Linked DNA regions of Homo sapiens. The protein of the gene in region 2 purifies or fractionates together with the protein of the main gene of each other region. This does not show direct contact. Each region holds a gene or a part of one and is shown on either strand. Other genes may lie near its edges. The genes, in order: CASZ1 and SFMBT2.

The links.
Region 1: the proteins of SFMBT2 (region 2) and CASZ1 purify together in Homo sapiens (affinity purification with mass spectrometry; one large-scale study listed by BioGRID and IntAct). This does not show direct contact.

Annotation. Positions count from the first base shown.
Region 1 is NC_000001.11:10,650,031-10,653,841, reverse strand, and holds part of CASZ1 (zinc finger protein castor homolog 1), read left to right. Parts: coding exon 1-465; intron 466-2,765; coding exon 2,766-2,901; intron 2,902-3,086; coding exon 3,087-3,150; intron 3,151-3,811. UniProt on the Homo sapiens protein: Transcriptional activator. Involved in vascular assembly and morphogenesis through direct transcriptional regulation of EGFL7.
Region 2 is NC_000010.11:7,404,336-7,408,146, forward strand, and holds part of SFMBT2 (scm-like with four MBT domains protein 2), read right to left. Parts: intron 1,412-3,811; exon of another isoform or gene 1,148-1,411; intron 1-1,147.

The DNA.
Region 1 (3,811 bases), on a different chromosome or scaffold from region 2:
GCGCCTCCCCTACCAGCCAGCAGTCCTCTGCGTCCCTGGCTGCCGCCACTGCCGCCACCGAGGCTGGGCCCAGTGCCACCAAACCTCCCAACAGCAAGATCTCGGGGCTGCTGCCCCAGGGCCTGCCTGGCTCAATCCCCCTGGCCCTGGCCCTCTCCAACTCGGGCCTGCCCACCCCCACGCCCTACTTCCCCATACTGGCTGGCCGTGGGAGCACCTCCCTGCCTGTGGGCACCCCCAGCCTCCTGGGTGCCGTGTCGTCTGGGTCAGCAGCCTCAGCCACCCCTGACACACCCACGCTGGTCGCCTCGGGAGCTGGAGACTCAGCCCCCGTGGCTGCCGCCTCTGTCCCGGCACCACCCGCCTCCATCATGGAGAGGATCTCTGCAAGCAAGGGCCTCATCTCGCCCATGATGGCCAGGCTGGCTGCAGCTGCCCTCAAGCCCTCTGCCACCTTTGACCCAGGTGAGCAGGCTGGGTCCTGCCCAGAAAGCAGGCACCTTCTGGACTGGGGTGGCCACCTGGCCTCAGGCTGCAGAGCAGAGTCGGGGGGTGTTTGGAAGAAGTGTCCGTGTGGCCCCTGCTTGCCAGCACCCCCTCTTTGCCTGATCTTCGCCCCCATCCTGTTGGTTTCTATGTGGGGCCCCTGGTTCTGGCTCCCCACAGTAGGGGGGCCATGCTTCTGTTTCCCCATCTGTGAGCTGGGGGCGATGGTCCCTGCCTCCTCGGCTGCCCTGCATCCCTGGGGCCACTGCAGGTCCCCCCTCCCTGTCTGCTCACCCTCCCACATCCCAAGTCCACCCTGATAAGAGCAGGCCCAGGGCCCCTGGCGTGCCGAGCGTTTCCTCCAGCTGACCTGGAGCAGGGCCTGCGTCCAGCCCAGCGGTAGTGGGGCTGCACCTCACACCTGGACACCTCCAGGCCCAGGGACGCCCTTCCCAGGCTCCCTCCTCCATGAGTGCCATTGCAGTAGGACTTTCCAGGCCTTGGAAGCCTTCTATTCTGCAGTGTTTGACTTGGCAGCCACTGGCCACGTGTGACTGTTGGTGCTTGAAGCTGGGTCTGTGATTGGGAAGCGGGATTGTCACTTTAAACAACCACACTTGGCCAGGGACTGCCACGTCAGACAGAAAAGGGCCAGAGCCCCGGAGTTGCATCTTCCTTCTTCACGCTGGTTCACTGAGGGGCGCAGTTCTCTTTCCTGCCTTCCTATAATTTCATAAATATCCATTTTAAAAAAATTTCCCTCCATTTTTCTCTGGATTGGGGTGAGGGTGTTTTCTGTTTACCTCACTCCTCTCCCAGTTTCCCTGCTCTGGGTAGTTCCTATTTGTTGAATCCTTGAGGAGAGTTCCGTTCACATCTGGGATGTGGCTCATTTCACTTATTCATTCAACAACCACTGATGCTTGCTGAGAGCCAGGCTCCAAGCCGGGTGCTGGGGACACAGCAGGCGGGACGCCAGACAGAGCCCCACGCCGTGGAGCCAGCAGACGGTCAGGGATGGTCTGTCCCGGGCACATGGCTAGGAAGTGGTGAACCAAGGCGCTGCCCGCAGGAGTGGGGCTCCTGGGCCTAGATGCCCTGTTCCCATTCGAAACCCTCTCAGAACCAGCCAAGACTGAGGGTCCCTGTGGCCCAGTCTGGGGCTCTGCCCACACCTTGCAGAGGCTGCCAGTGCTTGGCAGGGGAGCTGGGCCGTTTTCCTGGGACCTTGGGCAGGTGACTTTGGAGAGCTGCTGGAATGTGAAGTCCCAAGGTCTGAAAACTCTCACAGGCCCAATAGGACGCTCATGCCCGGTGGCCGCGTGGAGGGACCGCCTCCTGGTCCAGGCATGGGTGGGGCCTCGCTGGCCACGCCCTTCCAGCCAGGTGCCTGATGGATGGGGCAGGGCCCACTCCAGGGCCACGTGGGCTCGGTGGCCAGACTGTCAAGTACTTTGTTTTCATTAGAAAAGTCTCCTTCTCCCAAAAGAAAGATCAAGCACAGGGGAGGGGGCCGTTTTATTTTTTAATAAAATGCCACTTGCTGTTTCTGAAGCAGCACTCTGTCAGCTACAGCACCTTGGGGCAAATTCATATTTCCGTCACTGGGGGATTGTAGGGGAAAGCTCGCTGGATGGCCCTGTCAGCAACTTCTTTTACCCCTGCTCTGCTGGCCTCCTGCGGCCTCACCCGCCCAGCTCCCTTCCGGACCCAGCTCGGCCCAGCCTGGCCTCGTGTCCCTGCCCCGGATAGCTTGACTGCGAGGTCACCCGGTGTGGCCGCTCTGATTGGCCATCGGCCCCATCGCCCTGACACAGCAGAGGCCCTTCCTGGGCATGCTCCGTGCGGGGGCCGTCACCCCAGCAACCGCGGGCTGGGGACCACAGAGGGGCCCTCCCAGTCCAGATCTGCCACTTTCCCTCAGCATTAACAGAGTCTTTAATAAAAGCCTAAGCGGCAGCCCCACAAATCGACTGTGACAGTTGGTGGAGAAAATGAAGGGCCCCCGCCCCCACCCCAGCCCCCTCCCCAGCCTCCCGCCCTTCTCCTCCAGGAGGCCCTGAGCCAGGACAACTTTGACATAATTTTGCAATAATTATCACTTGAAGAATTGCCACACAGGAGCGAGCGTCGCGAGCGATCACGTCAGCGGGAGAAGCGCTGACCAGTAGCCGGGGCCCACCCAGCCCACTGCCCTCCCTCCAGGGGGCACGGCGGCTGTCTGTGCCCGGGCCAGGCCTTCAGCCCCTCTGACGCATCTTCCCACCCCTCCCCTGCAGGAAGCGGGCAGCAGGTCACCCCAGCCAGGTTCCCCCCGGCCCAAGTGAAGCCGGAACCCGGTGAGAGCACCGGCGCCCCAGGCCCCCACGAAGCCTCCCAGGACCGCAGTCTAGACCTGACTGTGAAGGAGCCCAGGTGAGGCGAGGCCCCCTATGGGAGCCAGCCCCGGGAACCACACCTTCGAGCTGGAGCCCCGGGGTGGTCCCGCCCAGGCAGTTGCAGCGGGCTCGGCTGGAGCCCCAGGGTCGGGCAGGGAAGGTGAGCCCCAGGGCCCAGGCCCCGGCCGTCTGAGCTCAAGTCCCTTGGTTTGTGTGTTCTAGCAACGAATCAAATGGCCACGCAGTCCCGGCAAATTCATCTCTTTTATCCTCGCTTATGAATAAGGTAAGAGCCATCCATCACACGCCTCCCGTTCCCCCACCCAGAGAAATTAAAGCTGTGCTGGGGGGTGGGGGGATGTGTTTGTTTTTTAATGTTTTGCCTCTAATAAGATGAGTTTGTACCATTTAAATTTTGAGGCCATTTTTCATCGGATATAATTTCAGAGCCACTGCTTACAAATTAATTTAATGAACTGGCTGAAGAAATATATTCCAGCCTCTGACACCTTTTTTTCCCTTCAGATGGAGGGCTCCAAAAGCTTTTCCAGAGCCCTTCAACTTCGTTCGTGCCTCGTTATTAATTTTATTTATTTATTTTATATATATTTTTTGTTTGTTTAAAAGGGGATGGGGGAGGGGGGACTAAAGTGGGAGCAAAACATCAATTTCCACTTTTCCGGTTGAGTAATGGTCTCGGACGCCTTCCGGAGAGGTCGCTCCGGAATATTTATTTTAAATAATGCAGGGTCTTTGTAAATTATACATCATCTCAAATACATTTTTCCCCTTCACATGATACATTTGACTACAGCAAGATTAATTCGGTTACTGTACACAAGTGACTGCCCTGAGGAGGGGCCGGGCCCGGGCCGGACCTCTCGCCGCAGGGCCCCAGCCGGGCACTCGGTGGGGAAGGAGCCTCACTGGTCCGTGGCATCCACTCC
Region 2 (3,811 bases):
TAGTGTTGATTGAAATGGAGGGGAAAGAAAACAACTTGCCAAGTTTGGCAGAAAGCAGGGAAGGCATACCTTAATATCTGTTTATAAGACATCTTTTTCTTGGCCAATAAAACTACAGGGAAAAACTCACAAGATGAAAACCTGCCGCTTCTCCCCCATGTCCCACACCTCCATACACTTCCTGTCTAATCACAGTTGCTAACATTATTTGTCCTACTTTGCAGAAGTCACCAAATGCTTAGGAAGCCCTGGATCTATCAAAATGTGTCATTTTTGCTTTTCAGAAAATGAGAAAGGAATGAAACAGAAAAACGCAATGGATTCTTTCTTTAATCAATGTCAAAGACATCTATCTCATCACATGAATGGAAGCCTAGACGTGTCATCTCATCAATAACCTGAGAGACCCTAACCATCAGTGCATATTGACATATTACCGCTTTTGCTTTTTAAAATTTACTACAGGCCAACCAGATGGGAAGTGTTAAGGTGGCATCTTCTCATCAGCACAGTGATGAACTGATCATGCAAAACCAATCCTGAAGGATTTTACTTGGAAACATTACATGAATCATGTGACACATTCTTTCTTATACTAAAAGTTCTAAGCAGACTATCTTCCCTTCCTTACAATACAGTCTTACAGTCTTGTAAACATCTTATTTACACTTGACTTAAACATAGAGCCAACACTTGTTTTAGCCAACGAGAGTATTTTTCTTAGGAATTGTCCCAGAAATTTTTAGTCTAACAAAGAGAGGAAGACCTGCCCAGCGGCCAAACCTGAACCCTAGGAACGGAAAACCTTGAACTTCAGAGTGGATGCTCACACTCACTTGCTGGCTACCAGAAGGCTGCAATCATCATCCATATCATAAACATGGACCCATGAGGTCCAAGCACCCTCCCATCTGGAATGGTGGGGTACACTGTGCTATCTGGAAGAGTCTCTTTGAGCCTGGAAATTATTAGAACAAGATGACATCAGGTGTTTCCTCATGGCTTGTATTCAAAGGCACACTGCTCTAACCCAGTCCATACCTTTATGGGGTTATGTGGGAAGGCCACATATGTATAAGCCTCCATCTTCTCTACCCTTCGCCTTTTCCAGAGCACAGATGAAAACACGACCCCATGTGGAGCTTACCTCACTTAACAATAGCACTTTACTCTGCAGCAGGGACCCACAGCTCAGCTGCTGCCTTCACAAGCACGGTTGCACATGGATGTCACCTAAGGCCAGTCAGGTTTTCATTATCCTTTAGGGGAACATGAGTATGAAAGATGAATCTCTTGGGCCTATCTGCATAGATGTACTGAATCACAGATGTATTTTTCCCAGATAGAAGCACAGTGATCATTGAGTGACATTCCAGGCTAGCACCTTTATTTTGTAGATAAGGAGGTTGAGGCTGAGAAAGATGACTCACTTGTCCCAGATCCCACAGCTGAACAGAACCATGTCCACCTACACACTAGGCCCGATTCCCCCCCCGACCCCCGCTCTCTCTGTCAGGAATCTTCCTTAGCAGCTAGTGTTAACACATCCTGGATCACCAAACTGAATACACACATTGACTTCCTGGTTTGTTGTGACGCATAATTTCCCAACTTTTTTTTTTTTTTAATTTGTATGATGGGGGCAATAAGTTGCTGCTGAGGCAACATAGATATAAGAATGGTTAGAAAAACCACAAAATGCATCCTGAATTACAGGTCCCAATGCCATTTTGGTACAAAAACCTTTATGACTTCTTACTTTAGGGCAGAGTAAAATTTCCTTCTGACCACTGCACCCATGAACCTCAAAAGTACAGAGTAATAAAATATAAAGAGAGAAATGTCCAACCCTAGTATACTAGAACTGTAGGTCATTCAAATCCCACAGTGAACTATTTTTGTTCAAATTATTTAAAAAAAGAAAAAGAAAAAGAAAACTCTGATAATCTGACAAAAATTTTTAGGCATAAGTGTAGGGCCTGGGGAGAGTAAATTTCCTTTACGGACTTCTTAGATCCCAAAAGTATCCTGTATCAATTACATAGAACCTCATTTTCTTACTGCTCAAAGCAATGCTTCCATCGCTCACTATTTCTTCTCAAATGTGGGAGTCCTTTGGGGGCAGTGGTTAAAAAAAAAAAAAAAAGCCACCTTAGCTAGAGTGGGCAGCAATGGAAAAATGGATAAGTGTTTAGTACTCCCAGGAAAGCTTTATGATGAAAACGAAACAGGGAAGAGTCAGGAACCTTTTCTGGCTTTTTAAAAGTCTTGACTTTTAAGTCAAGAATCGTGAAGCCAGTTATTTATAACAACCAATGTTAAAAAAAATAGTCTATAATGTCTGCAAGAACGCAGGAAGAGGAAAAACTCTGCGATGTATGACTTCCATCATTACTGAAACGCATCTCCAGCAGGACCTGCTGTTTGAGGTTCAGGATGGATGTATCCCAATGGGAAATGGGAAACAGTTCCCACCTCAGCAGGCCTCCACCGGCACTTCTACAGCAACACACATCAGAACAGAGTGGATGACCACTCTCTATTCCAGGATGGGGGCTGCGAGACCCCCGGCTCGGGGCAGTGTTCTGCACCGGCCCAAGAATGGGTCCTGCAAGCAGTAAACTCTTTGGTGGGGACCTAGAGGGTTGGCGGGGGGGGAGGGAAGTGGAGAAGTGCGTGGGTGTCTCCCACTCTCTTGCAGGCAGGCAGCTTGGTCCCAGCAAGAGCAAAGATAAGATCTGAGACGGTATTTATTTATGGAAGGGAGAAAGCAGAGTGTGTGCAAATTTAATGCTTAGTAGGGAAAAAGCAGGAGACCTCCTATCTCCAGGGCGGGCCTAGGGAACAATTCCTGCTGAGCAACAACGCCTCTCCCCTCCCCCACCCCACTTACCCGCTCAACTCCCTCCCCACCCCCAACAGCCTCCCCAGGAAACGAGGCCACATTTAAGCCTGTTTTCTCCTTTTCTCCGACCTGCTGGAACATGGGTTCTTTCCCTTGGTGTAGACACGCTAGTAGGTCTCCCAGTTCCCTTCTCTACGGTGCAAGAGTGGAGGGGGGATGGAGAGTGGTGGGCAGCGGCAACCGAGCCAGATCCAAGAGGGGTCGGCCTCGTCTAAATTGGTTTCCCACCAATGGCCTCGGATCAGCCGCGGCTGTGCTGCGGGAGCCCTCAGGACGCGGCTGGGGTTGGTGCGCGGGGCCCCGGAACCCCAAACCCGGCTCGGTTCGGCAAGGTTCAGGGAGACAAGGTAGAGAAGGCTGGGGTGAGCGAGAAGTCGGGCGGCCGATCGTCAGGGCCACGAGCCTCGCCTTGCCTTCTTGGAATCCCACCCAACTTTAAAGGCCCAAAGATCCTGAAAATTCCGAAAGCGAAACTGCGAGCTGGTCTCCAGAAGTTTGAGAACGGTCTCCCAGGCTTTCCAGCGTCGTCCCGGGATTCTCGGACACCACAAACGCCATCAACCACGAGCACCGGTGTCCGTGGCTATTGCCCCGAATGGTCCCCATCCGCGTCCCCGGGAACTCCCTCGGCTTTTCGCGCATCCAGGTCCCCAGCCCCAGCTACTGGTGCGCCCCGAGCCCCTAGGTGCCAGAGCGGTGGTCGGCCGGGCTCCTGCCCAGTCTCGGCTCCTCCCTCCTCCCCACCAGAAGGAAAAACTTGGGCCCTTCGAGAACCCTGTGGAATGTTCTTTGTAATCAACTGTACATCCGCTTCCACGGCACGGCCTCGTGCAAAATCGCGGGTTTCGGGGCCTTGGAGCAAATTGCGCTTGTCAGCGGCGACGTCAGGAGGACAAGGGGAGGGGT